Regions from separate parts of the Homo sapiens genome. Here all the other regions are reported to be linked to region 4. Evidence: microRNA targets listed by miRTarBase, many of them from high-throughput screens and not tested one by one. Region 4 holds a microRNA gene; each other region holds the end of a gene's coding sequence.
The links. Region 4 holds the annotated microRNA hsa-miR-1827 (UGAGGCAGUAGAUUGAAU, at 1,625-1,642, shown strand). A microRNA usually pairs through its seed, bases 2 to 8, with sites in the 3' UTR of a target mRNA and lowers its output. Matches are read on the target gene's strand: a 7mer-m8 pairs with bases 2 to 8, a 7mer-A1 pairs with bases 2 to 7 and ends in A, and an 8mer does both.

Region 1: the mRNA of ZNF583 is a reported target of hsa-miR-1827. Seed matches in the 3' UTR shown: 8mer at 2,150-2,157.
Region 2: miRTarBase lists FDXACB1 as a target of hsa-miR-1827. Seed matches in the 3' UTR shown: 8mer at 3,454-3,461.
Region 3: the mRNA of PELP1 is a reported target of hsa-miR-1827. Seed matches in the 3' UTR shown: 7mer-m8 at 3,194-3,200 and 8mer at 3,168-3,175.
Region 5: miRTarBase lists ZNF431 as a target of hsa-miR-1827. Seed matches in the 3' UTR shown: 8mer at 2,634-2,641.
Region 6: miRTarBase lists PGAP4 as a target of hsa-miR-1827. Seed matches in the 3' UTR shown: 8mer at 3,572-3,579.
Region 7: miRTarBase lists PLLP as a target of hsa-miR-1827. The part of its 3' UTR that is shown has no 7-base or 8-base seed match.

The regions. Positions count from the first base shown.
Region 1 is chr19:56,423,171-56,427,743 of GRCh38, forward strand. ZNF583 (zinc finger protein 583) reads left to right here. Exons shown (of 5, transcript NM_152478.3): 5 at 1-4,194. The coding sequence ends at 1,198. Among named protein-coding and RNA genes, the nearest start is that of ZNF583, 21 kb to the left of the region's middle.
Region 2 is chr11:111,871,202-111,875,319 of GRCh38, forward strand. FDXACB1 (ferredoxin-fold anticodon binding domain containing 1) reads right to left here. Exons shown (of 5, transcript NM_138378.3): 5 at 2,855-4,118. The coding sequence ends at 3,721. It overlaps ALG9 (ALG9 alpha-1,2-mannosyltransferase), which reads right to left and starts at 380. Exons shown (of 15, transcript NM_024740.2): 1 at 151-380. The coding sequence starts at 281. RefSeq lists a silencer at 16-325.
Region 3 is chr17:4,667,454-4,672,005 of GRCh38, forward strand. PELP1 (proline, glutamate and leucine rich protein 1) reads right to left here. Exons shown (of 17, transcript NM_014389.3): 16 at 4,238-4,552; 17 at 2,321-4,078. The coding sequence ends at 3,986. Among named protein-coding and RNA genes, the nearest start is that of ALOX15, 28 kb to the left of the region's middle. RefSeq lists an enhancer at 2,574-2,743.
Region 4 is chr12:100,188,308-100,192,919 of GRCh38, forward strand. MIR1827 (microRNA 1827) reads left to right here and starts at 1,577; the gene lies at 1,577-1,642.
Region 5 is chr19:21,182,938-21,187,532 of GRCh38, forward strand. It overlaps ZNF431 (zinc finger protein 431), which reads left to right. Exons shown (of 5, transcript NM_133473.4): 5 at 1-4,595. The coding sequence ends at 1,097. Among named protein-coding and RNA genes, the nearest start is that of ZNF431, 43 kb to the left of the region's middle.
Region 6 is chr9:101,472,074-101,476,685 of GRCh38, forward strand. PGAP4 (post-GPI attachment to proteins GalNAc transferase 4) reads right to left here. Exons shown (of 2, transcript NM_032342.3): 2 at 1,097-4,612. The coding sequence ends at 3,808. The region is part of intron 1 of TMEM246-AS1 (TMEM246 antisense RNA 1); the gene reads left to right. Among named protein-coding and RNA genes, the nearest start is that of TMEM246-AS1, 5.9 kb to the left of the region's middle.
Region 7 is chr16:57,253,563-57,258,088 of GRCh38, forward strand. It overlaps PLLP (plasmolipin), which reads right to left. Exons shown (of 4, transcript NM_015993.3): 4 at 2,535-3,467. The coding sequence ends at 3,351. It overlaps ARL2BP (ARF like GTPase 2 binding protein), which reads left to right. Exons shown (of 6, transcript NM_012106.4): 6 at 1-73. Among named protein-coding and RNA genes, the nearest start is that of ARL2BP, 11 kb to the left of the region's middle.

The DNA.
Region 1 (4,573 bases), not on the chromosome of region 4:
TGATATACAACAGAGTTTTCCCACCAAAGAAAAAGCACATAAGCATGAACCACAAAAGAAAAGTTACCGAAAAAAATCTGTTGAAATGAAACATAGGAAAGTCTATGTAGAAAAGAAACTTTTGAAATGTAATGATTGTGAGAAAGTCTTCAACCAGAGCTCATCCCTTACTCTTCATCAGAGAATTCATACTGGAGAGAAACCCTATGCATGTGTTGAATGTGGGAAAACGTTCAGCCAGAGTGCAAACTTGGCGCAACATAAGAGAATACATACTGGAGAGAAACCCTATGAATGTAAAGAATGTAGGAAAGCCTTCAGCCAGAATGCACACCTGGCCCAACATCAGAGAGTTCATACTGGAGAGAAACCTTATCAGTGTAAAGAATGTAAAAAAGCCTTCAGCCAGATTGCACACCTGACTCAGCATCAGAGAGTTCATACTGGAGAGAGACCTTTCGAATGTATTGAATGTGGAAAGGCCTTTAGTAATGGTTCATTTCTTGCTCAGCATCAGAGAATTCATACAGGAGAGAAACCTTATGTGTGTAATGTGTGTGGGAAAGCCTTTAGCCATCGTGGATACCTAATTGTACATCAGAGAATTCATACTGGAGAGAGACCCTACGAATGTAAGGAATGTAGGAAAGCCTTCAGCCAGTATGCACACCTTGCTCAACATCAGAGAGTTCATACTGGAGAAAAACCTTATGAATGTAAAGTATGTAGGAAAGCCTTCAGCCAAATTGCATACCTTGATCAACATCAGAGGGTTCATACTGGAGAGAAACCCTATGAATGTATTGAATGTGGGAAGGCCTTTAGCAATAGTTCATCACTTGCACAACATCAGAGAAGTCATACTGGAGAAAAACCCTATATGTGTAAGGAATGTAGGAAAACATTTAGCCAGAATGCAGGCCTTGCTCAACATCAGAGAATTCATACTGGAGAGAAACCTTATGAATGTAATGTTTGTGGGAAAGCATTTAGCTATAGTGGATCTCTTACTCTACATCAGAGAATTCATACTGGAGAAAGACCCTATGAATGTAAAGATTGCAGGAAATCTTTCAGGCAGCGTGCACATCTTGCTCATCATGAGAGAATTCATACTATGGAGTCATTCTTGACTCTTTCCTCTCCCTCACCCTCCACATCAAATCAGTTGCCAAGACCTGTAGGTTTCATCTCCTGAATATTTCTGGAATCCACCTCTTGAATCCATTTCCATCCCATCATCCTTGTCCAATGCACATTAATATATTTGACATGGGATACTCGAGTAGCTTTCTAATTGGTCTCCTTGTACTCACCATTGTCTCTGTCAGATGTCCACATTGCAACCAAATTTGTATTTTTAAAAATATGTTTAATCTCATTTCTCCCTCATTAAAATCCCTCAGTGGCATCCCATGGTTTTTAAGTTAAAGCACACATTCTTCAAAATAGCCTAAAAACCTAGCCTCTAACACCTTGTTCCAGGTTACCTTCCAAAGTTTCTATCTTGTGTCACTATCCATCTCATTCTCTGAATACTTATCCAGGATTAAGATACATATTCCAGGATCAAAAAGACCTGGGTTCCAATCTTTGCACTTCCATTTCCTGCCCTCTAATTTGGGGGCAGCAGTTTGTGCTTTGTAAGCTTCAGTCTTATTTATAGTGTGGGAATAATAATGGTTCTACCTCAGAAGTTAATAGAAGAATGAAATAATGCATGTAAATTGCTCAGCAGCGTGCCTAGCATAAAGTAATTACTCAAACCATAATGTAAAGTAAAAAGATAACCATACTATACATAGAAAGCCAATCATCTCAGCCATGATTATCTCAGAAATAAAAAGAGATGCAGCAGCTCAGGACTGAGAGATTGTGAAGTTTTTTTTTTTTTAGGAATGGTAGGCATTTTTCTAAAAGTAGGTGAGGAGGGTATCTAACAGTAGGATTTACATTAGAGTCCATGATATAGGGTAAGATGGTGGCTTGTATCAGCATTCACTGGATATTTAACAGTTCTAAGATGCTAATGTCTTATTTTAAAAGTCTTTTTTTTTGAGATGGAGTCTTGCTCTGTTGCTCAGGCTTGAGTGCAGTAGTGCAATCTTGGCTCACTGCAACCTCCGCCTCCTGTGTTCAAGTGATTCTCCTGCCTCAGCCTCCTGAGTAGCTGGGATTACAGGCCTGCACCACCACGCCCAGCTAATTTTTGTATTTTTAGTAGAGAGAGGGTTTTGACATGTCGGCCAGGCTTTTCTCTAACTCCTGACGTCCGGTGATCCGCCTGCCTTGGCCTCCCAAAGTGCTGGGATTACATGCGTGAGCTACCGTGCCTGGCCTAAAAAGTCATTTTTAATAAGACAGTTTACTGAGATGTATTCATCATTTACATGTAAACAAAGGCAAAATCGAAATTAAAAAGAAATCTTGAAACAAGTCAGTAACCAATGATGAGTAGAAAATAAAGTATAAGTTTGAACCCCTGTTCTAAATCTGGGTGAATGAATTATATCAAATCTATGTCATTTAAAATAATAAAGGTTGTTAAATTACTAAAATTTCAAAACTAGTGAAGAAAAGAAACCAAAACTGTAGGTCAGTTCTCATAAACTGGCCCACAAACATGTTTGATTCTGTATGCATTAAGTTTAAAATACATATGAATACCTTCAGCAGACCATGTGTTTTCCCTTTCTCCAACATTCAAACCACTCCCTGATTCTTTACATCTGACCTCTTTTAATATTACTTCCTGACCCCAGAATTCTTTTGGCATATAATCAATGCAGTGATCAATTCACATGTGACTATAGATACAAACAGAATGACGAAAGTTTAATGGAGGATGAAAAAGAAGACAAATAAATATTTTATCCTTTATATGGTAAGACAGATTCACTATCATACTGATGTCAGTAGCCCATGAATTAATTTACAGATTCTACCTAACAAAATTCTAATAAATTTTGTAAGGTTTTAACATGTATGTGTGAACATACATATTCATGCTGTTACACATATAAAGAAAATTATAACAAAAGTGACCTATACCATCAGTGGTTTAACAGTTTTGGAAAAATTTATCGTGCTCTATACAACAATTCATTCCATATGTGAAAGTTACTTTCAAGTGCTTTATCTAAATGTGGAACAAACAGTGATTAGAGGAGTCTGTGACACACTCTAATCATGGAATGAGACTGGCCTTCCTAAACATGAGATTCAGAAGCCTCCCCACCTCCTGTCAACAAGTCATAGATTTGACTGTATAAGAACTTTATAAAGCTTTTATATGATCAAAGATAGTAAAAGATACAATATTTTTTAAACCTAAGAATGGGAGAAAATTATTGCAGCACATATAAACTATGGAATTCATATCCTTAACATAAAATTGCTCATAAAAATCCCTTAGGAAATGACGCTTTTCTCCAGCTCATAGTCAAAGGATATGAAGAGGCAACAGGTGACCAATAAATATGTGGTAAGTACTAAATCTCCCTAGGATCAGAAGAAATACAGTTTAGGCCAATGAAATACTATTTTTTTCAATATCAGATTAATAAAACTGCATTGAAAGCATACAAAAAGAGATACTATGCACTAATTTAAAAGAGCATGAGTTTGTACAAACTCTGGTAGGCAATTTGTCAACTTCAGAATTTTAATTGGGAAAAGTAGAATTTTATTTTGAAGTTCAAAAACTCGGCACACAATGTCTTTCCCTCCAGATTCTATTATACACATAGAACAATGTAAATGATTCTTAAAAAAAAAAAAAAGGTGAGGCTTTTGAGTGGATGAAATAATTTTGTAAAAGGCAAAACAGGGAAGAGTGTTCATGAATTGTAGCAGAAGATGCTGCATGTTATATGCGAATGACCGAAGGGTTTTAAAAATGGAATCTAGTCTGCCCAAAGGATCCCTAGAGAAGTTCAGGCTTGGAGTTGGCTTATGTACAGGCTGTGGCTTCTAAGAAGACATGATGAAAAGCCTCTTGAAGCCTTTGTATGTGAAAGTTATGTCAGTAGCCCTTGCCAAAAGCCTCCTCACTCTCCCCTCTCTTGTATAAGTAAATTGAATGGGATCCTTATTTCACACCATTAACAAGTATAAGTTCTAACTGAATAAAAATCTAAATGTAAATTACTAAAGCAAAAGTATTAGAAAAAATATAGTGGGATATGTTAACGACTTTGGTGTCAGACACGTGTTTCTAAAATATTCAAATACCATAAAGGAAAAGATTGATAAAATTGACTGTGTCAAAAAATAGTGTGCTTTGGCTGGGTGCGGTGGTTCACACCTGTAATCCCAGCACTTCGGGAGACTGAGGCAGGTGGATCATGAGGTCATGAGTTCAAAACCAGCCTGGCCAAGATGGTGAAACCCCATCTCTACTAAAAATACAAAAAATTAGCTGGGTGTGGTGGCAGGCATCTGTGATCCCAGCTACTTGAGAGGCTGAGGCAGGAGAATCACTTGAACCATGTGGCAGAGGTTGCAGTGAGCCAAGATCATGCCACTGCACTCCAGCCTGGGCGATAGAGTGAGACTCTGTCTCAAAAAAAAA
Region 2 (4,118 bases), not on the chromosome of region 4:
ACCAATAGGACCTAGCTGAAGAGGGAGCTCGGGCCTCCCGCGGTGAGGCCAGGCCGGACTGAGCCCCGCGCGCCACAGCTAAGACCCTCCCGGGGGCAGCCCCGAACCGCCCCGCCGGCCGGCCACGCCCCTGCCGCGCCGCACACGTACTCGGTCCGGTGCTCCGCGCCGCCCGCCTCTCGGCTGCCCAGCAGCTCCCGCAGCTTGTCCGCAGCCGGGGCCGTATCCCCACTGCTGGCCCCGCTGCCCTTCAGGCGCTGCCGAGCCCCTCGACTAGCCATGGCAAGCCTGGGGAAAAAAGAATTCGGCACCCTATGAAGTCGGTGAGCGCGCAGACATAGCTTTGGCTGGCAAACGGTGTCCGCCGAGGGACAAAAGACCTTGACATGCGCAGAAAATACTAAATTATAGCGTTACTGGGCCAATTGGGGCAGATCCCCGAGTAGCGAAGAAATAGAACCTGAGGAGTTTCTTCATCAGGGCTGTCCCATCCACCTGCTTCTAACTCTAGCCATTCCTACCTCCCTCCAACCCTCTTTTCCGTCACTTTTCAGCATTCTCCATTCTCAAAAAAAAAAAAAACCACCTCTCAGCTCCCCTATTTAAATGAAAAAACAAATAGAAAGTGATTAAAGAAATCTACATAGTGAGATGTGAAGTATTCAGTTAAATATCACAGCACAGCTATCTACTAAAAGGTCCTTAAAATGTCATTTTTAACACCTTGCCTTCTCTGTATTTTGGTAAGAGTGACAGAGGCAGCCTGTAGCTAAAAACTGCTTCAGAGAGACAAACCGGTAATGGCAGAGTGTAGACTGATGAAATTCTGTGCGGCAAATTGAACCAGATGTCCATCACTGTCATCGCTACTACGGCATTGTGGTAGGCATTTTACATATTTTATCCTTTTTAAACTTAATACAACAACCTTGTTTTATTTACCAGGAAACTAAATAAACTTGGAGCTAGTAAATGGTGGAGCTATGTTCCAGCCCAGGACTATCTTACCGGAAAGCCCATGCTCTCTCTTCCCACCAGATCTGGTGAAAGGTCTTCATTTCCTACAATCATTTTTATACTGGCACATTGATGATATCATACCTGTGACCCCCATATCTTGGGGGTCATTCATCTAATCCTGACACTCTATCCACTCCTCTAATCACAGAGCTATATCCTACCCTGTCGAGCTCCATGCCAGTAACTGGGACAAGTTTATAGAGGGAATGCTAATCTCTTGACAAGGTCTCAGAAGGTTGTGATTTCCTACTAAAAATTCCCAAGTATTGAAAATGGAGATTGATCATATTGCTCAATTCTCACATGCAGTCATTAGTTACCAAGTTCAAATATCCAGCTTAACTCTTTTTTTCTTTTCTTTTTCTTCTTTTTTTTTTTTTTTTTTTGAGACAAGAGTCTTCCTTGCTCACCCAGGCTAGAGTGCAGTGGCACAATCTCAGCTTACTGCAACCTCTGCCCCCTAGGTTCAAGAGATTGTCTTGCCTCAGCCTCCCTAGTAGCAGGGACTATTGCCACCACACTGGCTAATTTTTGTATTTTTAGTAGAGATTAGGTTTCGTCATGTTGGCCAGGCTGGTCTGGAACTCCTGGCCTCAAGTGATCCACTTACCTCAGCCTCCCAGAATGCTGGGATTATAGGCGTGAGCCACTACACCCAGCCTAACTGTATCTCATATACCCATCTCCTCCTTTTCATTTAAGTCTAATGCAGGTCCCTCCCTGTCTACGTAGGACTAACACAATAGCATCTCCACAGGGATCACTCATCTCAAATTCATCCTGTGCAACATTAACCAGTTAATTTTCCAAAGCACTACTCTGGGGCACTTCCTTAATAAAAAACCACCGGATGTTTTCCTATTGCCTACCAAATAAAGTACAAACTCCTTATTCTAGCATTTGGTATTCATGAACTCCAGCCCCAACTTACCGTTCCAATCTTATCTCCCACTACTTTCCTATGCACACTTTACATCCCAGCTAACTAGCCTAGAAAGTGCCCCCAAATGCTCCCTTATCTATATCTCTGTTTATGGATGTCCTCTGCCCAAAATGCACACCCTACTTGCCTAACAATTCTCCCTTCACATTCCTGCCCTTGTTTTAAGATCCAGCTTTCAAACGCTACCTTATACATGTACCAAGCACTACTGAGGATAGAAGAAAGGGATAAATCACATTACCTGCCATCAGTTAGCAAAATAGTCAATGTGGAGAGCTCAGCAATAGATGTGTCTGTAAGAGATCCCTTGATTCTTTATCCCACTCCCCAAACTTACTCGTATGGCAGTGTTTCCATCCAAGTTAATGACACTTCCAATCTTCTAGGTATTCAGGTCAAAAACCTAGTAGTCTTGCTTAATTCCTTTATTTCTCTAACCCCACACCTCTCTCACCCACACACAAATGTTTAATTCATCAGCAAGTCCTTCCAAATATTATCCAACCCAACATTTTACCACCTTGGTCCAGGTCATTATCTCATTTGCATTACTGCAATAACCTCCTAATTTGTCTCTGTACTTCCATTCTTGCCTTCCCAAGTGCTTTTCTCTAAGAATAAATAAGACAGTCATGTCTCTCACAGAATATAATCCCAAATGTGGAGCCTAACTATTAACAGGAGCATACATTACTTCACATTAGAGTACCGCATTCTGCAGAATCCTAAGCTAATTTTCCAGTGTCCCTTAGAGATACTTACAACAGAAGGCCCCAAAATCCAGAGAGGCAAAGTTTAATCACAGTTGAACGATTACTGTTAAAGACTAGGGAAGAAGTAACAGAAAGTAGCAGAAAGAACATGGGCTTTAGAGTCAAACAGACCCAAATGTTAACCCTAAATCTGACACTTTATTCGTTCCATGACTTTCAACCACAGAATTAAAATGGTGATGATTATAATAATAATACCAAAATTAATGTGGAATATTTGCAATTTCCCAAGCTAATAAATGTTAGTCTGATGCCAAAAACTACTCTCATAAGGTGATTTAATGAAATGATACAACAAAGTTAAGGGAAGAGTAATTGACAGTGTGGAAAACATATTTATATTTGATGAGACACTTAAGTTCTACTGCCTGTTCAACAATAGAGCATCTAAAGTACAAGATGCTGTTTTGTTTATTGTTTTAGTCACTTCTCGGGACCAAAATATTACACAACTCCAAATGTCACCAATCACATTATAATCTATAAGTTTCAGTAATAGAGTCAAGGTATCTTTAAGATCAACTAACAGTAGGCCGGGCGCGGTGGCTCACATCTATAATCCCAGCACTTTGGGAGGCCGACGCAGGCAGATCACGAGGCCGGGAGATTGAGACCATCCTGGCTAACACGGTGAAACCTCGTCTCTACTAAAAATACAAAAAAAAAAATTAGCCAGGCGTGGTGGCAGGTGCCTGTAGTCCCAGCTACTCGGGAGGCTGAGGCAGGAGAATGGCATGAACCTGGGAGGTGGAGCTTATAGTGAGCTGATATCATGCCACTGCCACTGCACTCCCGCCTGGGCGGCAGAGCAAGACTCCGTCTCAAAAAAAAAAAAAAAAAAAGATCAACGAACAGTAGCTATGGTCACAAAGTAAAAGATTTTACAAAAACAAAAATCCAGAAAGGACTACTGGTTGCAAGTTGGTAATTTTCCTCCACATCCCCCGCAATGAAGGATCACACTGCAGAAAAGGATTTACCAAACTACCGAGGTATAACATATAGGTGTTGTTGAATCTCCTTCCTAAACTGGGACTGCATTGATGCTACTTGCTGCTGGGTGAGGGCCTTGTCACAGGTCTGGTAGGTCAATCTATAGCAGAGACTGACCTGTTGAGTCTTTGGATGCTGGAAACGGCTAAGAAACTGTATGGATATAATAGTGTCCTGAGACACTGCTCGGGCCACAGTGTGAAACTCTAGTTCATCAAATCCTTTCTTCTGATCTATCCAAAAACTAACATCATGCACATAACATGGAGGATACAGAGAATGACTTTTAAAGGGTTCTATTTTGCCAGGGACAAAATTTTTCAGGAAACGGTTATCAAACGTCCACAACATTCTCCAGTCAGAGATACACCAGACAAGCATGGCTAATA
Region 3 (4,552 bases), not on the chromosome of region 4:
GGAAGCTCTGTATGAACAGAAATGGAATGATCTTCAAATTCTGCCAACTCCACCTTCAAAAATTATCTAGAATCCAACCACTTCTCCAACACCTTAGTGGAAGGTATCATCTCTTCTAGCTGAATCTGCTTCCTAGCTGGTGTCTCTACTACCCTTTCTTTTGTCTGTTCCCCAGGAGCAGTCACACGGGTTCCATTACAACATAAATTATGTGACATCAATTATCGGCTTAAACCCCTCCAGTGGCTTCCCACCTCACCAAGTAGAAACCATAGGCCCTGCCTCACTGCCCCCCCATCCCCCAGCCATCCTCTTTCACCCTATTATTACTCTGACCTCATTCCCTTTTCCAACCTCACTGGCCTCCTTGCTTTCCTTGAACACACCAAGAATGCTCCTGCTTCAGGATCCTTGTACTTGCTGTGCCTGGGCCCCAGAACTCCACACAGCTCTCTCTCAACTCTTTAGGGTCTTTAGAGTCTTTATTCAACATCACCTTCTCAGCAAGAGCTTCCTCGACCATTGTAATTAAAATTGCACACACACACACACACACACACACACACACATGTAGTAACATGGTAGACATGGGTGTTCTGGGTGTAATTCTTTCAACTTCTCCGAATGTTCAAAAATTTTCATTATAAAATATTGAAAACAGGCTGGGCGCGGTGGCTCACACCTATAATCCCAGCACTTTGGGAGGCTGAGGCAGGCGGATCACGAGGTCAGGAGTTCAAGACCAGCCTGGCCAACATGATGAAACCTCATTTCTACTAAAAATACAAAAAGTAGCCGGGCGTGGTGGTGCATGCCCGGCTACTCAGCTACTCAGGAGGCTGAGGCAGGAGAAGTGCTTGAACCCAGGAGGCAGAGGTGCAGTGAGCCGAGATTATAACGCTGCACTCCAGCCTGGGGCAAGACTCCATCTTGAAAACTAAATAAGTTAAAATTTAAAAATTCAAAATACTGAAAACAATACACCCACACGAATCTATCCCTTTCCTTGCTTTATTTTCCCACTGTGCTCACCATCAAATATACATCTTACTTATTTGTCTACCCCCCACCCCCAAAATATCTAGAATATAGATCCCACAAGGGCAGGGCAGAGATTTCTGCATTTTGTTCACTGCTGTATCTCCAGCTTTGTAAAACAGTGCCTATCAATGACTACCAACATCAAATTTATGGTTTTACTGTAATAATGTAAGATGTAACCACTGGAGGAAACTGGCTGAAGGACAGCTTGTCATCCCTACCCTCTCATTAGCATCTCTGCAACCTCCTGTGGACCTATAGTTACATACATTATATATATACACATACATACATATATATACACACATACATATAGATACATACATGCATATACACACATACATATATATACACACACACATATATACACACATATATATATACACATATATATACACACATATATATATACACACACATATATATATACACACACACACATATATATATATATCACACATATATATATATATATATATATATATATATATATTTTTTTTTTTTAGACGAAATCTCACTCTGTTGCCCAGGCTGGAGTGCAGTGGCGCGATCTCGGCTCACTGCAATTTCCGCCTCCTGGGTTCAAGCAATTCTCCTGTCTCAGCCTCCCGAGTAGCTGAGATTACAGGTGCACTCCACCACATCCAGCTAATTTTTTTTTTGAGATGGAGTCTCACTGTCGCCCAGGCTGGAGTGCAGTGGCGCGATGGCTCACTGCAAGCTCCGCCTCCCGGGTTCACGCCATTCTCTCACCTCAGCCTCCTGAGCAGCTGGGACTACAGGTGCCTGCCACCACACCCAGCTAATTTTTTGCATTTTTTAGTAGAGACAGCCTCTGATTTATGTTACGTGATAATATACTACCATTTGCATTTAAAATTATATATATATTTGTATGTGCATACAATATCTCCAGATGAATATGCAAAAACTGATCATACTGGCTGCTCTGGCAGAAAATCTCATGGCTAAAGAGGACTTTTCAACAAACCTTTTGTACCTCTTGAGTTTTGAACCATGTGGATGTTTTCCCGATCCAGAACACCATTCAAATGAGAAAAAATTCTGTTCTAGCCTCTTCCCCAAAATCAATGTCAACTTCACCTATCTAGTTTCCAGAAATCAGGTTCTTTCCCTTTCTGAAAAACCACTATTGCACTTTTCACACTACACCCTTGTCCTTGCAGTGATCCTTAAACCTTCCAGGGCCTTCTCCACCTAGAAGAAATTCCTCTTGAACTCAGAGGAGGAAAAAAAAAAAAAAAAGCTATTAAGACAGTTTAGGAATTAATAGGAAAATTTTAATATCACAATTATCACTGGATTACTGTTATTTTTCTTAGGTTTGATAATGGTATCAGGATTGTGCAGAAAAACATTCTTATCTTAGAAGATAATTCATGTTAAAGAATCTGGGATGGGAAGGGCCACGGTGTCTACAGCTTACTTTCACGTGGTCCCATGAAAAAAGAAATGTGTATAACTACAGATGTATAGATTAGACAGATATATGGGTGTAATATAGATACATGTCTACATGTAGATACGCAGTTTATAGGGATAAGAGTTAACATGACTAAATGTTAATTGGCAAATCTAGGCAAAGGTTATCTATTATACTGTTCTCACTTTTCTGTTTATTTCGAAAACAAGTTGAGGGGTAACTTTTTAAAATCCTACTGAAGTTTCCAAAAATTAGCTCAAATGCCACCTCCTCAAAGGGCTCTTCAGGATACATGTTGGGAGAAATGACTCCCTCTTCTGCATTGCGAAGGCACTTTACTTACGTTCATGATTCAACTGACTGAGCAAAAAAAACCACGGGGCCCCTAGTTCAAGCCCACCAATCTTGGTACCCTCTCACAGACACATCTCTCGGTTCATCCTCACACGTCCATCCCAGCAAGGCCTAGAATAGGATTAGTGCTTAAAGAAAAGACACTGGGACAGTCAGGTGCGGTGTCTCATGCTTGTGATCCCAGCACTTTGGGAGTCCAAGGCAGGTGGACCATGAGCTCAGGAGTTCAAGACCAGCCTGGCCAACATGGTGAAACCCCACCTCTACTAAAAATACAAAAATTAGCCAGGCAGTGGCAGGCGCCTGTAATCCCAGCTACTCAGGAGGCTGAGGCAGAGAATTGCTTGAACCTGGGAGGCAGAGGTTGCAGTGAGCTGAGACCATGCCACTGCACTCCAGCCTGGGCGACAGAGCAGGAGTCCATCTCAAAAAAAAAAAGAAAAGAAAAGACACTGGGTGGGAAATATCCACACCTCAAGAGTGAGCAGGAAGGCCTGGGGTGAGCTTATCAAACTCCTGCCAGGGAGCTGTGAGGGGAACTGTCATTAGGAGGACTAGCCCCAAAACAGAGGTCATTCCCAACGTACCCACTACGGACACCCTTTCATCTTGGGGTAAGGTCCAAATTTCCCAGAATTCAATGACTAAACTGCTCCACACCTTTTCCTAATTTCCTAAACTTCCATAGACTGAGCAATCACTCAGCCTGCCCTTTCAGACCAAGGGGCTGAGCACGCATGCGTGTGGGCATGTGGGTGTTGACACAGGTCCACTCACTAGGATGCATTCTCCACACATTTCCCACCCCGAATACAAACACGAAAGCAGGGCTGTGTCTCTATAACTCCTCATTCTTAACCCTACACACAATTCTGCACGTTTAGCATCCAGCCAGAATCCTACAATTCTGACACCATCGTGCTGAGTGATGGGACAGTCCATTACACCAATGTCAGTTGTTCCTCTCTGGATCGTCAAAAAGAGGACAGCTATGGAGACATCTGGGGAATACTATGGACACCCTGAAAAGCCCAGCAGACACTTGAGCTTCTGGCTGGGGACCCAGGTGTGGCAAAAGGCAGAAGCAGCAGTCGCTATCTAAGGACATAACTTTATTGGAAACAAAGAGTGGGGTGCAGAAGATGGCTAGGAGTCAGGCTCTGTGGGAGGTGGTGGCTTCTCATCATCAGGGGGACAATCGATGAAGTCGGCCAGCATGGCAGCTGTGTCATCCTGCTCCTTTTAGGCACAAAGATACAAGATTCAGAATAGTCACACACACATACACAGAAGAATGGTTCAGGCTGGGCAAACCTCTCCTAAGAGAAGCAGCTGCCACCCCTTCTCCCGCCAGCCCCACCTTCTCGCCCAAGGAACCTTCCCTGCCTGGCCTCTCACCTTTTCCTGGAGAGCTTCGGCCTCTGTCTCTGTCTCCATCTCTTCTTCTGCAGGTGTCTCTGGTGGGGGCTGCACCTTGTCACTCCCATCCTCAGTCTCCTCTTCCAACAGGGTTGGGGGAGCAGAGGGCTCTTCTTCAACAAGCTCCTGGGGAGGGGGCCCTGCCGCAGGGCTTTCCCCTTCCCTCTCCACCTCTCCCTGGGAGGGGAGCGCTTCAGGGGCCAGGGTGGGAGCTGTGTCAGCCCCACGCTCCTCCTCCGTCCCTGGCTCCTCCACTTCCAAAAGCAGCCCGGGTTCAGGTTCGGGTTCTGGCTG
Region 4 (4,612 bases):
CTACGGCACCTGTGGCAGAGGACTCACAGGCCTTGCCTGCCTGTCTTCCTGAGAACCCTTCAAACTGCTGAAGGCAGGGAGGGACAGCCTCTTACCCAAGGGAACAACCTCAGCCCCATCCCACAGTGAGGGGGAGAGGAAAATGCAGCAGGGAGGGAGGGAGCACCAGCTGCACAGCCAGGCAGTCCTGCAGAATGGGCTTCTCTAAACTTGAGTGGTGACCCACTGTGGGCCAGGATATCAAATTAAGAAGATAAGAAGTCAATTTTGAGGGGACAAGCATTTTTTTTAGTATTAAAAGAGAAAATAGTACTTAGCTTTACTATATGTAGCAGTGACATTTTTCTTTCAGTTTTATGTACATACTGACAGTATACATTTACATACAAAGGTGTATTATCTGCTGTCGGTTCCCAGTCAAAAAAGTGAACAACACTGTGTCCGAAGGTAACATCCTTCCCAGTGTCCAGAATTGGTTCCTTCTGGTGGGTTCTTAGTCTCGCCAACTTCAAGAATGAAGCTGCAGACCTTTGCGGTGAGTGTTGCAGCTCTTAAAGGTGGCACGGACCCAAAGAGTGAGCAGCAGTAAGATTTATGATGAAGAGCGAAAGAACAAAGGTTCCACAGCATGGAAGGGGACCCGAGCAGGTTGCCGCTGCTGGGTGGGGTGGCCAGCTTTTATTCCCTCATTTGTCCCTGCCCACATCCTGCTCATTGGTCCATTTTACAGAGCGCTGATTGGTCCATTTTACAGAGTGCTGATTGATCCATTTTACAGAGTACTGATTGGTGTGTTTACAATCCTTTAGCTGGACACAGAGCACTGATTGGTGCGTTTTTACAGAGTGCTGATTGGTGCATTTACAATCCTTTAGCTAGACACAGCGCTGACTGGTGTGTTTACAATCCTCTAGCTAGACAGAAAAGTTCTCCAAGTCCCCACTCGACCCAGGAAGTCCAGCTGGCTTCACCTCCCACCAGGAGGCCAAACAAAAAGGACAGTGCTGAGAGGAACCATCGTCCTGCTAGGGAAGGGAGTGTGGCACAAAGGCAGGTGGGTGTGGGCAGACCCCCCCTGCCACGGGTGTGCAGGGCAGAGGATGATGAGCCCCAAGCAGCAGGAGCAGGAGCAGTAGAGCAACTCTGCCCCTGAAAGGGTCTGGAGCCTTCCCTCATCACTCTTCCTCAAGTCGATGCTGGACACCCACTATGTACCAGGCCGTGTGAGGCACTGGGGTAAACCAGAGACAAGACAGACAGGGTCCCTGCCCCATGGAGCTCCCAGCCTTGCAAGGGAGCTAGACCACAGATGAGTACACAAAGAAATACAGTAACTACAGGCAGTGGTAAGGGCTGTGAAGGAGAAGCACGGCAGTGAGGAATGGGAGGAACAGGGAAGGCTTCTCTGAAGAACGAACAGAAGTAACCAGAGAAGAGACAGCCCGCCCTGCAAAGGGACAGCCTGAGGCAGGGCCTGTCGGGAAGACAATACATCTGAAGAACTGCAAGAAGTCAAGTGGGCCTGCAACAGAGGAAATGACAGGAGTCAGACCCCATGGGACCCTGAAGGCCATGTTCAGCAGCACAGCCTTCAGCCTAAAGCAATGAGAAGCCTCTGAAAGGCTGAGGCAGTAGATTGAATTGATTCAGGTCCCTTAGAATTGGGTCCCTGCAACAGGTGGACCCAGGACCGGCAGAGAATGCAGATAGGCGCCCCTCCTCAGCCCCCAACTCTAAATATAACAGAAGACATGGCTCAGTTGCTCCCTTGGTGGCCCTGGACAAGACAGGCTGAAGTTCTCTGAGCCTCCGCTTCCCATGCTGAGTCATGGTGAAAGGTCTCTGAGTCTACAGGCCAAAGCCACTGCTCCTCTCATGACTGCAGTGATTTCCATGGACAGTGTTATGCAACGGCGGCCCTTCTGATACGTGGGGCCCTGGGAGCGTGTGAACTGATCGAGACCAAGAGGACTGATGGGACACAACTGCTAAGCACAACCTCATGCTCCTGGGAGCTATCAAAGAAGACCAGGCACCAATGCAGCAACACACACACACAGCCCAGCCAACTTCCCGCAACTGCTGAAACTCCACGGGCCCAAAAGCAAGTCGCCTTCCTTCCTGCTTCCTTCTCTAGAAGGTCTGGCTTTAAAAATGTCACTGTGAGGCAGCAGCATGGTGACTACATGCCTTGTCTTTCTTGGCAGACAGAGCCATGCCTTCCAACGAGGAAAATTACAAATACCACGTTATGGCTCCTGGACAGGAACAACTTCTCCCAATTCACCAAACATCTGTGTGCCTGCTTTGAGCTGGTTTGCGCCCTCTGCTGCAAACAGGGGCTGAAGAGACGAGTCACTGTCACGACTTTAGAGTCCTAGACACTAAAACCATAATAGATTCTTGGGAACCCCCGCCGTGCTCACAGATAACTCTTTCTACCAGGCCTGAGTGGGTCAAGAATGAAGCAAAAACTAAGAGTCAGAGCAGGGCCAACTGCAGGGCCCGCAGAAGACCTGTGGGAGGGAGGCCTGGAAGGAAGAGCACACCTTCCCGGCCAGCTCAGCCCTCACAACTGCCCTTGAGAAAGGCACCCTGTCCACTCCACCCAAGGGAGTGGAGACACACTTCACCTACTGGCTCAAAAGAGTCAGAGGGGCAACAGTGGCAGCAATGCCAGCAGGCCTGGGGTGTGTAGCCACCATTTACAGAGCACTTACAATCAGTCAGGCAGTGTGCTAGGCATTTCTTATTTGTAACCTTAACAACACTCTCACTGATCCAGAGAGGGAGAGGTTTACACACACACACACACACACACACACACACACACACACACACACTCCAAGAGGATATGAGGGCTTAAAGCTTGGGTTAGGCAATAAGCATCTGGCATCCTCTAAGCATGAAAGGCACAGTAGTGAACTATACTGACAAAATCTCCTCCTAGGAGGTGATGCTCTAGTAGGACACAACAGCAGATGCTCAAAGACTAGATCAGGGAGCAAAACCATCCTGAATCTCTAGCCGACTGAGGGCCCCCTGTGCTGGCTGGTGAGCTACTGCCTACTGGACAATCATGAAAGCCACAGTCTCCCTAGGGATCCTCTCAGCTCCTTGCCCCTCAGATGGTCTCACACAACCGAGTGCTCAGGATGTTTACTGAACTGAGCACTTTAGGCAGAGTATTTCACAGAACACTAGTTAGAAGCCACTAATTAGTCACGACTACCTAGTTTACCATTTCCACAATACATTCATTCTGTGAAAGTAAACGAAACCCAGCTGAGGGCTAGCCTGATACGATATAGGTAAACACCCAATCAAATATCATTAAGACCCCACTACATAAATACCAGAACTGAAAATTGCTAATGAAAATGCCCTTCCCTCTCCCAGTCTGAGATACAATGGCAGGGTCCTTTTCTTTCTTTAGAGGAAGGGGTTGTTACTGTCTATATTTTGTTCTGACTGGAGGTGGGAAGTCTGCACCCCAGTGCCTCAAAGGTAAAAGCGTCTGACCAAGGACACCTGTCTACCCTCATCAGATGCCTCAGTGAGGTGGGAGCTGGTACACCTCCACCCCGAATGCATCTGACCCCTCCTTTCATTTCTCAAGAAATTGTTATCTCCATGGTGGAAGGAAACTGGCAATGTGCATACAAGCAAAGCAAGTGCAGCAGGAGAGAAGTCAATGCTAAGGGCCATTAGGAATCCTTCAGGAAAGGAAGTCCACCGGGGTGGGGCTGGCCCCAGCCACACATACCTGCCAAAGTGAGCTTCATCCATCACAGCACCCCCAACTCAGAAACAATTAAGAAGCAACTGCTCCAAATAGGTTCAGCTTTGCATTTATCTACTTTTAAATGTTTGCCAGTACATAACATATAAATACTTCAACCCTTCATACACAAACAAGATAATCCTCCAACCTAGTTAAATAAAAATACTAGGCATGACTAAACCATCATCAGTGCCACGGTCTGAATGTCTGTGTCCCCACAAAATTCCTATGTTGAGACCTAGTCCCCAAGATAATAGTAGTAAGAGTGAAGCCTTGTGGGAAGTGATTAAGTCATGAGGGCAGACCCCTCTGGAATGAGATCAGGGTCCTTATAGAAGAGGCCAGAGTGGTAAAAGGGATTTCAGGAGAAAAATACACTTAGCTAGGTAGCTAGATACATACATACATATATATGTATACATACATGGATATATACACACATATATATGTATACATAGATGGAGGCCCCAGAGGGAACTTGTCTGTCCCTTCTGCTGTGAGAACACCGCTACAAGGCATCATCTCTAAAACAGAGAGTGAGCCCCCACCAGACACCAAATCTGCTGCTGTCTTCATCTTGGACTTCCCAGCCTCCAGAACTATGAGAAATAAATTTCTGTTGTTCATAAGCTACCTTGTCTATGGTATTTTATCACAGCAGCCCAAATAAACAAAGGCAATCAATTTGGGAGAAGAAGAAGAAAGAAAAGAAACGATTTGTCAAACTCTGCTTAAAACTCTTCACTGACTCCATAGCTCTTAGGACAAAGACCAAAATCCTGCCCTGACCCAAGCCCTGCCTCTTCCAAAGGCTATGTCCCCTTCACC
Region 5 (4,595 bases), not on the chromosome of region 4:
CATTTTGCATGCTTTTACACCTAAGTCAACATAAAAGAATTCATATTAGAGAGAATTCTTACCAATGTGAAGAATGTGGCAAAGCTTTTAAATGGTTCTCAACCCTTACTAGACACAAGAGAATTCATACTGGAGAGAAACCCTTCAAATGTGAAGAATGTGGCAAAGCTTTTAAGCAGTCCTCAACCCTTACTACACATAAGATAATTCATACTGGGGAGAAACCATATAGATGTGAAGAATGTGGCAAAGCCTTCAACCGGTCCTCACACCTTACTACACATAAGATAATTCATACTGGAGAGAAGCCCTACAAATGTGAAGAATGTGGCAAAGCTTTTAACCAGTCTTCAACCCTTAGTACACATAAGTTCATTCATGCTGGAGAGAAACCCTACAAATGTGAGGAATGTGACAAAGCTTTTAATCGATTCTCATACCTTACTAAACATAAGATAATTCATACTGGAGAAAAATCTTACAAATGTGAAGAATGTGGCAAAGGCTTTAATTGGTCCTCAACCCTTACTAAACATAAAAGAATTCATACTGGAGAGAAACCCTACAAATGTGAAGTGTGTGGCAAAGCCTTTAATGAGTCCTCAAACCTTACTACACATAAGATGATTCATACTGGAGAGAAACCCTACAAATGTGAAGAATGTGGCAAAGCTTTTAACCGGTCCCCACAACTTACTGCACATAAGATAATTCATACTGGAGAGAAACCTTACAAATGTGAAGAATGTGGCAAAGCTTTTAGCCAGTCATCAATCCTTACTACACATAAGAGAATTCACACTGGAGAGAAACCCTACAAATGTGAAGAATGTGGCAAAGCTTTTAACCGATCCTCAAATCTTACTAAACATAAGATAATTCATACAGGAGAGAAATCTTACAAATGTGAAGAATGTGGTAAAGCCTTTAACCAATCCTCAACTCTTACTAAACATAGGAAAATTCATACTAGACAGAAACCCTACAACTGTGAAGAATGTGACAATACATTTAACCAGTCCTCAAACCTTATTAAACAAAATAATTCATACTGGAGAGAAACTCTACAAATGTCAAGAATGTGGGAAAGCCTTTAAGCAGTCCTCAACTCTTACTAAGCATTAAATATTGGCCGGGTGCGGTGGCTTATGCAAAATGGCTCCCAGCATTTTGGGAGGCTGAGGTGGGTGGATCACAAGGTCAAGAGATCGAGACCATCCTGGCCAACATGGTGAAACCCTGTCTCTACTAAAAATACAAAAATTATCTGGGTGTGGTGGCACGTGCCTGTATTCCCATCTACTCGGGAGGCTTAGGCAGGATAATCACTTGAACCTGGGAGGTGGAAGTTGCAGTGAGCCAAGATTGTACCACTGCACTCCAGTTTGGCAACAGAGTGAGACTCCGTCTCAAAAAAAATTTATACTGTACAAAAACCCCACAAGTGTGAAAAACATGGCAAAGCCTTTAAGAAGCCCTCAATTCTTAACAGACATAAGATAATTTATACTGGAGAGAAACTCTACAAATCAGAAAGATGTGACTACTTTTGACAACGCCTCAAACTTTTCTAACCATAAAAGTAATTATACTGGTGAGAAATCCTAGAAATCTGAAGAGTGAGATAAAGCCTTTAAATGGTTGTCACACTTCATTGTAGGTAAGATAATTCATACTGGAGAAAACGCCTACATGTGTGAACAATATGGCAAAACTTAATGCTCACACTTTATTGCTAGGAAAGCATTTATACTTGAGATAAATTATACAAATATAAAGACTGTGAAAAAGCCATCATTATCTGCTCACATTTTACTCAACACAGAGAGTTCCTGCTTAATAAAAGCATTATAAGTGCAATTACTGTCAAAAGATCTTTCAGAAAATATAAGCTTTTTTAGTGAAGAGTATTTATTTTGAAGTTGAACATCACAAATATAAAAAGGGTTGTAGTGCCTTTACTTGTATCACAGATCTTTTTGTAGACATTTTCTTCTAGAGGAAAACTCTGAAGCAGTTGATCAAACTTTGTTCAACATCAGGGAATTTATATTGAAAAATTGTGCAAATATAATAAATTTGGAAAAACAATTTTTCAAAAACTACAGCTTAGAAATCAACAGTTATACTAGAATATATTTTTTCCAGATGCAGTAAAAGTAAAATATTTAATCCATAATTAAGTCTATGCAAATATCAGAGAATTTATGGTAGAAATATATAAGGTACTGACACTTCAGATATACTAAATCAGAGTGCTAAGTATAGAAAATCTGAAACTAAAGTTGGTAGAAAAGTTATTTGTATAGAACTTTAAGAGGATCAGAAGGTTTTTTGCAGAGTTATAATTACATTCAAAGTATACTTTATTTCTTGAAAAATATTACAGATTTTTTGAAAATTGAATAATGTCATCATTCAACTCTGAAATTATTTCCTGTTGTTTCTTCATTCCTATTGGATTCACATGTGAAAGCATGGGGTTAATTGTTGCTACATCAAAGAGAGAGATTCTTTTGTTTGTTTGTTCGTTTGTTTTTTGAGACTGAGTTTCACTCTTTCGCCCAGGCTGGAGTGCATTGGCATGATCTCAGCTCACTACAACCTCTGCCTTCTGGTTTCAAGCAACTCTTCTGCCTCAGCATCCCAAGTAGCTGGGATAACAGGTGCCAGCCACCATGCCCAGCTAATTTGTGTATTTCTAGTAGAGATGGGGTTTCACCATATTGGCCAAGCTGGTCTTGAACTCCTGACCTCATGTGATCCGCCCGCCTCAGCCTCCCAAAGTGCTGGGATTACAGGCTTGAGCCACCACGCCCAGCCTGTAGCATATTTTAATAGGAGAATACAATATATAATAGTAGCAGGGTTAAGTAAGGCATCCATCATCTGTAGCATTTCTCCTTTGTTTTACAAACAATCCAATTCTACACTTTAAAAAAAAATTTTTAAATGTACAATTAAATTTTTATTTACCACAGTGTTATTTTTATCGTCATAATAAAAATTATATACGAGTATAAATGAAATTCATTTCTAAATTCTTAATAAATATTTTCTCATGCCAGGTGTGGTGGCTCACGTCTGTAATCCCAGCACTTTGACAGGCTGAGCGAGGGAGTGGATCTTGAGGTCAGCAGTTCGAGACCAGCATGGCCAATATGGAGAAATCCCGTCTCTACTAAAAATACAAAAATTAGCCAGGCGTGGTGGCATGTGCCTGTAATCCCAGCTACTCAGGAGGCTGAGGCAGGAGAATCGCTTGAACCTGGGAGGTGGAGGTTGCAATGAGCCAAGATCACCCCACTGCACTCCAGCCTGGGCAACAGAGCGAGACTCCATCTCAAAAAGTAAAATATATTTTCAAATTTTCTATATATTTTTCTTTGAACATGTGGCCTGTCTGCCTGCAAACATATACAGACTTTTAGTTTTGATTCATATAGAGTTAAATACATGTTAGTCTAAAGACAAATCTTAGGTGTAAGAAAATTATGGAGTTAAGTATGTGTGTGTGAGTATGAGTTTGTACATATTTTCAGAAGGAAAGAATGATACGGGAACAAAAATCATTTTAATATGGTGACTACTATAAAACTAAAAACCTAAAAAATGCTGAAAGCAAATGTATACTTTTTGGTTTGTATTGAATTTATTACTGTACAGTCTATGACTTAGAGTTCTGAATCTTCCCAAGCAAATTCTCTGTATATACTTGCCTGGTACTCATGCTAGACCCATACTTTTTTTGTTTCTTACATTTTTTTTGTTTTATATTTTATGAAGTATTCATTATGTGAGCTGGTCTGCGATTATAAGAATTTTTATGAAATTTAGTGCACACAAAATAATCTTTAGATGTAATTCCAAAAGTAGTGTATTAAGTTACATTTTATTTAGTTAGAGCACTCCATTTTGTTCTTTTAAGAGGAGAACAATATATAGGTTTTCTTTAGTGATTTGTTCCTTTCACTTTTTATAATTGACATAAGCATATTTATTGAGTCAATTTGTTCAGCTAAGTACTAGGGAGGCTTCATTAGTCATGAGGATGTTTTTATATATAAATGTAGCAAACATATATTACAGTTTTCACTGTGTAATAGATTATCCATAATAATTCATAAATATTCCTGCTGAAGTTAGTTTGTAACTTCAAGTCAAAGATGAAAAATATCAATGGTGAAGATTGATTGTTCATATAGAGAGGACATTTTTTTTCCAGACTGTAAAACTGAATCTTGTTGAATTTAAAGAGAAATTCTGGCAGAGGCAGATGAATCACCTGAGGTCAGGAGTTTGAGACCAGCCTGATGAATATGGTGAAACCCAGTCTCTACTAAAACTACAAAAATAGCCAGGCATGGTGGTGGGTGCCTGTAATCCCACTCGGGAGGCTGAGTCAGGAGAATTGCTTGAACCCGGAGGTGAAGATTGGAGTAAGCCAAGATTGTGCCGTTGCACTACAGCCTGGGCGACAGAGCGAGACTCCATATAAAAAAAAAAAAAAAAAAAAAAGAGCTGGGCGTGGTGGCTCACGCCTGTAATCCCAGCACTTTGGGAGGCCAAGGTGGGCGAATCACTTGAGGTCGGGA
Region 6 (4,612 bases), not on the chromosome of region 4:
CATGCTCTCTCTCTGGAATGCTTTTCCTTTGACTAAATTTTTCCATGTAATTCAGGTCTTAGTTCAATTTTAATCTCCCCTAAGAGATTTCCCATCCTATCTAAAGCAGTCTATGCCCTTCCCTATCCCTAGGTCCCGCAATCACATTACCTAGTTAGATTTCCTTCAAACCTCTTGAAATTCCCTTATTTATTCTTTTGAGTTTTTTTCCACTTCACCTTCCCCATAGAACATGAGCTCCTCAGTGTCAGGGGTCTTCTGTTTCGTTCACTGCTATATCCCCAACACCTAGAATAGAACATGACACACAGTGAGCCATGAATGAATGAGAAAGAGTACAGGACTCACAGTGGAACTGCCTATGAACAAAAGGAATACTGGACAAAAAGAAATGGACTAGGGAAGAAAATCAGGAAGAAGAGGAACAAAGAATGGGGTCTAGGGACTGAGAATTGGTTATAGTGTACAATTTTAGCCCCTATAAAAAAGTTTTTTACATGCATTCCAAGCAGAGGGAATGGCAAGTGCTAAGAGGAAGTCTTTCCATCACTACACACAGCTGTTTTTTACTTTGTTGTTGTTAGTGGTTTTGTTTTCAGTGTGTGTGTTGGGAGTGGGGGGAGGATGGGTGTGAGGGATCTCTGCGTGTTTCTCTCAGGGGAAGGCTGGGTTTTCTCTTTCAGCCTACAGGTGTTGCTGCATGTTCTTGGGGTGGCCAATGGAGCACTAGACAGGAATACCACCCATGGCAGCTCTGCAACTTATTCTAAGACTTTTAGGGCAAGAGGCAGGAAAGAGTGAAGGAATGATCACCACATTGTACCAGGGGTATACCAGTGAGAGGTAAGATGATCTGGGTGGTAGCAGTGACCCCCACTTTTTTTACCCAGAAAAAGATGGATAAATGCTCTGACATTGCTGTGACCCAGGGATCTGTGGCCATGGTTGCTTGTGCAGGCAGCAGCCAATACTTCTGAATGGCTCCCTTGGGACTACAAAACTGTGTGTGGGCGCAGGGAGCCCATACTATTTGCCACATCAGAAAAATCCATTCATGAAAAGGAAAGACAGAGAATGATAAAAGTCTTCTCAGAAAGCCTTAGCAAAATGGGTGCTTTTATTTTCACAGACATGTCTATGCAATACACTCAGTCACAAGAGAGAGCTTCTTAAGCCTGACCATAATTTAAACTCTGAAAGGTGAGTGAGCCTGTTAAGAGACCTCCACCCTTCTAGTAACCTATATCCCTTGATATGGGAAGGATATCTTAGTTCTCCCTAGCCCCTTGCTTAGGATTAAGTGAGAGACTTCAGCTTTGGTGTAAAGCTGTCAGCTGCCCTAATCAAGGACAATACACAAAAATTAGACTCCTTATAAGAATAAGGGATTAAATGGAGGAAGATCTAGAAGTGGGTGGGAACAAAAGAGCAGAACTGAGCCTGCATCTGCAGAAAATGTCCAAAGACAACTGGCAGAGTTCACTCCATGGGGAAAAGGCATGTTAGTGTGTAGGTAGAGAAACTGGACAAGGAAGGATGGCCTTAGCCTTCCATAATGGAGAAGTCGGGCAGGGGATGTCTGCATGCAATAGACAACTGAATTAGAAAGAGCAGAAATGTAAACCAGCAGTGCTTCCCTATCTTGGGCCTGGCTAGCTTAAAGGGGCTCTACTGTCATTGGTCAAAAAACTTTCATGAGGAGATCCAATCACTAATGCAACAAACTCTAATGAGTTCTAAGTTGGAGAGAGCTCAGTTCTAAAGCTTGGGGGTAGACAGGTCACTGAGAGAGGAGGAATGAAGGAGTGGGATCTGAACATTGTAATAAGTCATCTAGTAGCTCTGATCACTTTGGACATTGCTGGGGGATACATAACAGCTCACTATAACATTACAACACATACTTATATCTGTTTGCTCCTCCAAACTAACATGACAATGTGTTTCTGCCATCTTAGCTTACAGAGACATGATCTAGTTCAGCTTATACTCAGATTTTACAAAAGAGACTTTGACCACATAGATATTCATAAAATTAATGTGGTTAAGAAAAAAGTGCAGGGGCTTGAAGTCAGAAGAGCTCCGTTCCCATTTTGGCTATGCTGCTGTTCAGGTTTGTGACCTGCAGAGCAGTTTAGCATCTCTGGGTCTCAATTTGTTCATCTGTAGAGCGTGGGTGATCAACCTTTATGTAATCCTTCTGTGTTGAGTGGGTCTCAAGATGGAAGCTCACTATGGGAATTTAAAAGCAAACTGTGGCATCGAAACAAACTGGACAATTGCTTGAACTCTAATATCATCATCCATCCTCATAAAGTAACTTGTTGGTCACTAGTCTGACAGTACTGTTAAAAGACATTTATTTGTAACTTTTGAGAAAATAATTTTCAGACTCTGATCTTAGAATAAGCTCATGAGGAGTCTCATTTCCAAGCTGGAGATCATTTCCAGTTTGAATGAACAATTCTTCTTTTTGGCTTGGGTGAACGTGGGGATAGGTGAAAGCTGAGCTGCACATCCTTCAGAGGTCACAATGAAAAGTCAGTCTTTATTCTAGCAGGGCTTGGTCATCTGGAATAGCTGGTACATAGGTGGCAGCTCCATGCCCTATCTCATACTTTAAACAACATCACCAATATCTTTTTCCGAAATAAGCTTGAGTTGTATATGTTTATTATAGGAGAGAAAAGTTTGCCAAGCGTCTTCTATGGACTAAGCACTTGCTAGGTGTTTTACATATATTCTGCCATTTAATCCTCAAGGCAACTTTAACATGTAAGTATTACTGTCCTCATTTTACAGGTGAAGAAATTGAGACCCAGAGTGATTATATGACCTGCCCAAGGTGGTCACGTCGTTAGGCCATGGCAGAGATCTGAAATAAAAGGTCAGGTCTTCTGACTTCAGTCCATGATTTTTTTTTTTTTTTTTCTATAACATCATGCTACCTAGAAGAAAAAGAAATGAAGGTAAGCAGTCAGCCAGGAAAGTCAGGAAAAATGATATGCTACTTGTAAAGAGCTCCCCTATATTGTATCATTCTGAAATGTCCAATTTTCAAAGAGTCAGAGTAGTACAGAAATGTTCAATGTTAAATCACTACTCAACATAAGCAATCTGACTTTGATGGTTCACAAGCTCTTCCAGATCTTGTCGTGCCTTAAAGTTCTCACTAACAATATCAATTATCAGTGCACTACAGATATATAGGAAAAGAAAATCCCAGGTAACAGAAAAGCCAGATCACCTGCCTCCAAGATGCCGGGCACTGCACGGCTTTTATCAGTTTTTATTACATCAGGTCAAGGAAACAAATGGAATCTATCCACATGGTCCTGCCTCGTTGGGCATATATTCTAAACATACATCCATTTTCATACCCAATGAGAAAGAACTCAATTCCAAAGGATCTCACCTTTCACAAAATTCTACCCTTAAGATCCTAAAACAGTCATATCACTGTGCACAAAATTTTTGGCAGTCACAAGCTCTAACACAAAGCAGAGCTTAAAAACAAATGGAGAATATAATCAGTGTTCAAATGCACCCTCACTGGGTGGGTCAGACTGCATGAGGCAGTGTGGCTGTGTGGAGGGAGAGGTCCGGACCTGTGGCAAACTGCTGCTCCTGCCAGGAGGCTACCAAAGCCAAGGCTCTTAACATATTGAGGTTCCTCAGCTGCCCCAGTGCCTATATCTCTAACAACAGTAAACAGTGAAATACCTGCAGGCAACCATGTCTAAATAAAGAGATAAATATTTGAATCTTCAAGAAGTGGCCAACTTCAGAAAGGCATCTCTTGGCACCCTAGAGGAGACTGGGATGAAAGTTGTACCGGAGACTGGAGAAGAGCCCGATGTGTTTCACGAGGTTCGGCTCCACTACATAGGCCCTCTCTCCCTTGGCCCTCAACAGCGAGTACAGTGCCATGTCCTTGCCAAAGCCCTTGTGGCAGTACACTTGGGACAGGTAGGTGAGGGTCCGGCGGGCCGCAGGTGCCGGGAAGAGCATGGCTGGGGTGCAACACTGAGAGGCAGGAACCACACTGTACAGGGAAGGACTCAGCCGCCGCAGTTCCAGGAAATAGTGCCGACCCACCAGCTCCACCAGACCCATGCTATACAGGGAGAAGAAGAGCATTACAGGCCAGCTAAACCCTGGGCGGCTGGCAAACCTCATGTATATCCAGGTTAGTAAGGGCCCCAGCAACATGCCTACACCAACCCATTCCAGGATCCGCATGGGCTCTGGATTGATGTAGTGCTGGAGCCTCTCGGGGTGATACAGCTTGAGATAAAGGGCATCTCTGAGATGTGGCTCAGAGAAGCGAGCCCGCAGAAGGTGCTCCAAGACTGGGAAGATCTGCTCTTCTGGTACAGCATCGTCTTCTACCATCAGGACGTAGTCTGGGTTGTAGGTCTGCAGGGATGACTCCAGGCAATAGACATAGTCCTGCTTCTCTTTCTCAAACGAGTTGGTCGAAGGGTCATCACCATAATCATCCTCAGTGCCCTCATAGCGATTGGCCACAGGGACATACTTGGAGAGCAACTTGGCATCAAAATGGCTCACACTACGCTCCACGTTGCACAGGAAGAGTTGGTGCCCCTCG
Region 7 (4,526 bases), not on the chromosome of region 4:
GATGTGTCACTTATTAAATACTTTTGTACCATGAGTAAAACTTCAGGTGTTTCGCAAGAACCACCATTCTCAATGAGTTGTATTCTTTCTTTAATGTAGCCACTGCCATAAGGTTATTAATTATTGCTTTGGTCTTTTTTTTTTTTTTTTAAATGCCACCTCTCCTGGGCTTGCTTTCCCTTGCTTTGTCTATAAATGGGAGGTCCACCACAGCCCAGGCATGCTGGGAGCACTTGCTAAGACCTGTGGACCAGCCTGCCTACTTGAGAAAAGGCCAGTGGACAAGTCCAGAGATTAAATGATGAAAAAACGATGATAAAGGCAAATTGGTTTTTCACCCTTTTTTTTTTCTTTTTTTTTTGGGAATGGAGTTTTGCTTTTGTTGCCCAGGCTGGAGTGCAATGGCACGATCTCGGCACACTGCAACCTCCACCTCCCGAGTTCCAGTGATTCTGCTGCCTCAGCCTCCCAAGCAGCCGGGATTATAGGTGTCCACAAACACGCCCAGCTAATTTTTGTATTTTTAGTAGAGACAGGGTTTCACCATGTTGGTCAGGCTGGTCTTGAACTCCTGACTTCAGGTGATCACCCACCTCCCAAAGTGCTGGGATCACAGGTGTGAGCCACCATGCCTGGCTGGTTTTTTCACCCTTTCTGCTCAGCAAAAAGGAGGCAAGTCTGTTGTCACTTAATATTATAAGTAGACATTCTGATTTCTTTTAAAATAAACTAGCAGCCTGTCTCTCCATCCTCAGACACTTAGACTGTGATGTCAGGTGCCACCTTTGATGGGGCTCCCACCTGCCCTGGGGTGAGGAAGCCCCAGTCCTCTTGCTTAGGACTCCTCCCCAGTGGGAAGCAGTAGTCACACAAACTGCTGAGCCTTAGCATTGACTGAATGCCTTTAATGTCCCCCCTGAAACAGGCTTTTGATTCATGTTGGAAACATAAGAGGGGTGAGCTCTCTAACTTGCCTGGGATTTTGTTTTACATTTAAGTGTATTGCCCTTCCTTAAAACCAAACTCTTATAACTTACTCCTGGAAGGACTAATTTATTATTCAAACTCCGAGACTTTAGAGTAAAAAGTGATGCTATTAATATTTATACCAGGGCCAAGTGTGGTGGTTCATGCCGATAATCTCAGCGCTTTGGGAGGCTGAGATGGGAGGATCACTTGAAGCTGGGAGTTTAAGACCAGCCTAAGCAATATAGCGAGACCCAATGTCTACAAAAAATTTAAAAATCAGCCGGGCACAGTGGCTCACGCTGGTAATCCCAGCACTTTGGGAGGCCGAGACGGGCGGATCACGAGGTCAGGAGATCGAGACCATCCTGGCTAACACGGTGAAACCCCGTCTCTACTAAAAATACAAAACATTAGCCAGGCATGGTGGCACGCACCTGTAGTCCGTTACTCGGGAGGCTGAGGCAGGAGAATCGCTTGAATCTGGGAGGCAGAGGTTGCAGTGAGCCGAGATCACGCCACTGCAGTCCAGCCTGGGTGACAAAGTGAGACTCCATCTCAAAAAAAAAAAAAAACAAAAATTAGCTGGGCATGGTGGCCTGCACTTGTAGTCCAAGCTACTGAGGAAGCTGAGGTGGGAGGATTGCTTGAGCCTGGGCAGTCAAGGCTGCAGTGAGCTGTAGTTGTGGCACTGTACTCCAACCTGGGCAAGAGAGCAAGACCCTGTCTCTTAAAAAAAAAAAAAATCGGCCAGGTGTGGTGGCTCACACCTGTAATCCCAGCACTTTGGGAGGCTAAGGCAGGCGGATCATGAAGTCAGGAGATCAAGACCATCCTGGCTAACATGGTGAAACCCCATCTCTACTAAAAATACAAAAAATCAGCTGGGCGTGGTGGCGCTCACCTGTAGTCTCAGCTACTCAGGAGGCTGAGGCAGGAGAATTGCTTGAACCCAGAAGGCGGAGATTGCAGTGAGCCAAGATTGCGCCATTGCACTCCAGCCTGGGCACTAGAGCAAGACTCGGTCTCCAAAAAATAAAAATAAAAAATAACAAAAGGGTACAGAGGGTACCTAGAAATGCTTTTACCTTATTGTTCAGAGAACGTTGTTCTGTGGTGTTGGAAAAATAAGCTCAGGAGTACTCAGCTGCTTTCCTCTGCTGTCTCTACCAGCTCTGAGCAGGCAGCATGGCCAGCCACCTTGATTATATGACCTCCAAGCTTCACAGACTTTCAAGGTAGATGATATTGTTGAAATCTTTGATTCAGTAAGCTCACCTAACCTGCCCAAAGCAAGGGTGACTAAGTTATTGTCAAACTGAGTCACTTGTGAGAATAAAAGGCCGTGCTATTCTATTTATGCCAGCACAAACAGCATAAACCAGGACTGTTCCAGACCCAGCAAGCAGGAAGTATAGGCAGCCTTCCTCCGGTCAAAGAGTTCGCAGGTGGTGCTGAACGACTCCAGAACGTGAACTGCCCTACAGCAGGCATCTTCTACAGTCAAGCTGAGGTCTCCTGGAGGTTACAAGCACCTGTAAAAGTGATTTGCCAACATCTTGTCCAAATAATTTCTCTCATCTTTATTTTTATTAAAAAAAATAAAACAGTCACCACCAACCACATGACAACTCGCCAGGCAAGGCCTTGCTTCCCTCCCTCCTTTGCGTCCCATGTGCCTAGTCAGCAAGGTCGGGGAGGCACCGATGTTAGCTTCGCCCAAAGGGAGTATTACAGAGAGAGGCTTGGGAAAGGGAAGGAAACCTGGACAGGCTTTTCAGCACTGAGAAATCACTTAAAACTGATTTGCTTTCAGTAACTGGTATGTCTGAAATGCAGGGAGGGAAGACCATGCTGTCAGCAATCAACCCACTTTTTACAGGTTGGCTCCAGGGAGAGGTTGGTTGAAACGGTGTTTAAAGGAAGGAGAGTGGTTTCACCAGCTTGCTCAGCTCTCCTGGAACAAAGACTAAGGTGCTACGTGTTGCTTGTTAGGCTTATACTACGGCGGGTCTGGGGCTGCAGGTCTGGAGTCCTTGTTAGTGCATTTAGTGCTGGTGAGAAGGGTGGGCCCCAGTCTTGGACGCTGAAGTCCTCTAAAGACAAGGCAGAGACACAGCCTCAGATCCCCCGTCATCTTCCACTGAATAAGGGGGATGGAGAAGAGGTCTCAGCAGTTGGCCTCCTGCAAGCCGAGATGCCTGCCAGCCTGGGCCTGCTTCCTTAGCGCTGTGAGAGCTTATGTCTGACGGGCAGAGAGGAGCAAATGCAGTCCCTGTTGGGCTGACTCCACGCAGGGCTCCCCAGCTTCAGGCTTGCAGGGTGACCCTGCTCTGTGACCCAGCGGCGGCTTCAGCCCCAGAGGGGGCCGTGGCACAGGTGGTTTAGGCATAGCCGCCAGCCATCTGACTGGTGGCCGCATTGCTGCCTACTCCTCGCCAGGCCTGGTAGCTGAAGAAGGCACTCACTCCATAGGCGATCATCACCAAACACGCAAAGAACTGAAAGAGAGGTGAGAAGGGCTTAAGGACCGAGAGGGTGACAGTGACACAAGCTCCAACCAGATCTCAGGCCAGGCAGGAGGGGTTGTGGCAGCCGCACCATCTCACACTTAGCCAGATGCATTTCACAGCTGTTTATCATGGGGCTGATGAGCACCAGGGTCCTGGGATACCAACATTACCTTCTAACCATGGGAAACAGCTAAGAACCACAGGCAGGGCCTGTCAGATTGTGATAAGGGCAATGAAGGAGAAGATAAGAGTGACAGAGGGGACACCTAGCAAGGATTTAGTTCTAAAAAGACAACATTCAAAGGACACCCTAGGAATCTCCTAGAACCAGTTCAAGCCTCTATACTAACACCTGCAGCCACATTCAGAAGCTCCCCGTCTCTGTCCCCATCACTGAATTTGCTGATTTCAAAACTGCCCTCATCAGGAAGAGTAAGGAACCAAATGCGTGCCCATTGAGGCCCTGCCCTCCCCTGGGCTTGGCCGTGGCTCCAGGCCTGGCGTCCAACTTCTCTGAGCAGGAGCCTCCTGTCTGTCAAAAGGAACTGGTAGTCCCTTCCTCTCCCTCACTGTGGGTGTCGCAGGATCCTGGGAGGAGATGGTGTGCAGGGCCTGGTGGTGTGAAGGGTGACAGGCGTGGAGGGGACTACTGCCACTTCACTGGCCACCTGACGTGGGCCCAGAGTTTGGGTTTCATGGGAGAGCCTATGAATCTCCCAGAATGGTTTAAACCAAAAGGTTTTTGCACGTGCACTTGTCAGTGGGAGAGCATGTTTTTCACATTCTCCAAGGGGGCACGTGACCCTAAGGCAGTGTGGCACAGCTGATTTACAACAAGGTTCAATAGTCAGCCCAGGCCGCGTGTGGCAGCTCACACCTGTAATCTCAGCACTTTAACAGGCCAAGGCGAGTGGATCACCTGAGGTCAGGAGTTCAAAAGACCAGCCTGGCCAACATGGTGAAACTCCGTCTCTACTAAAAATACAAAAATTAGCCAGGCGTGAGACTCCATCTCCAAAAAAAATACAAAATACAAAAAAATTAGCG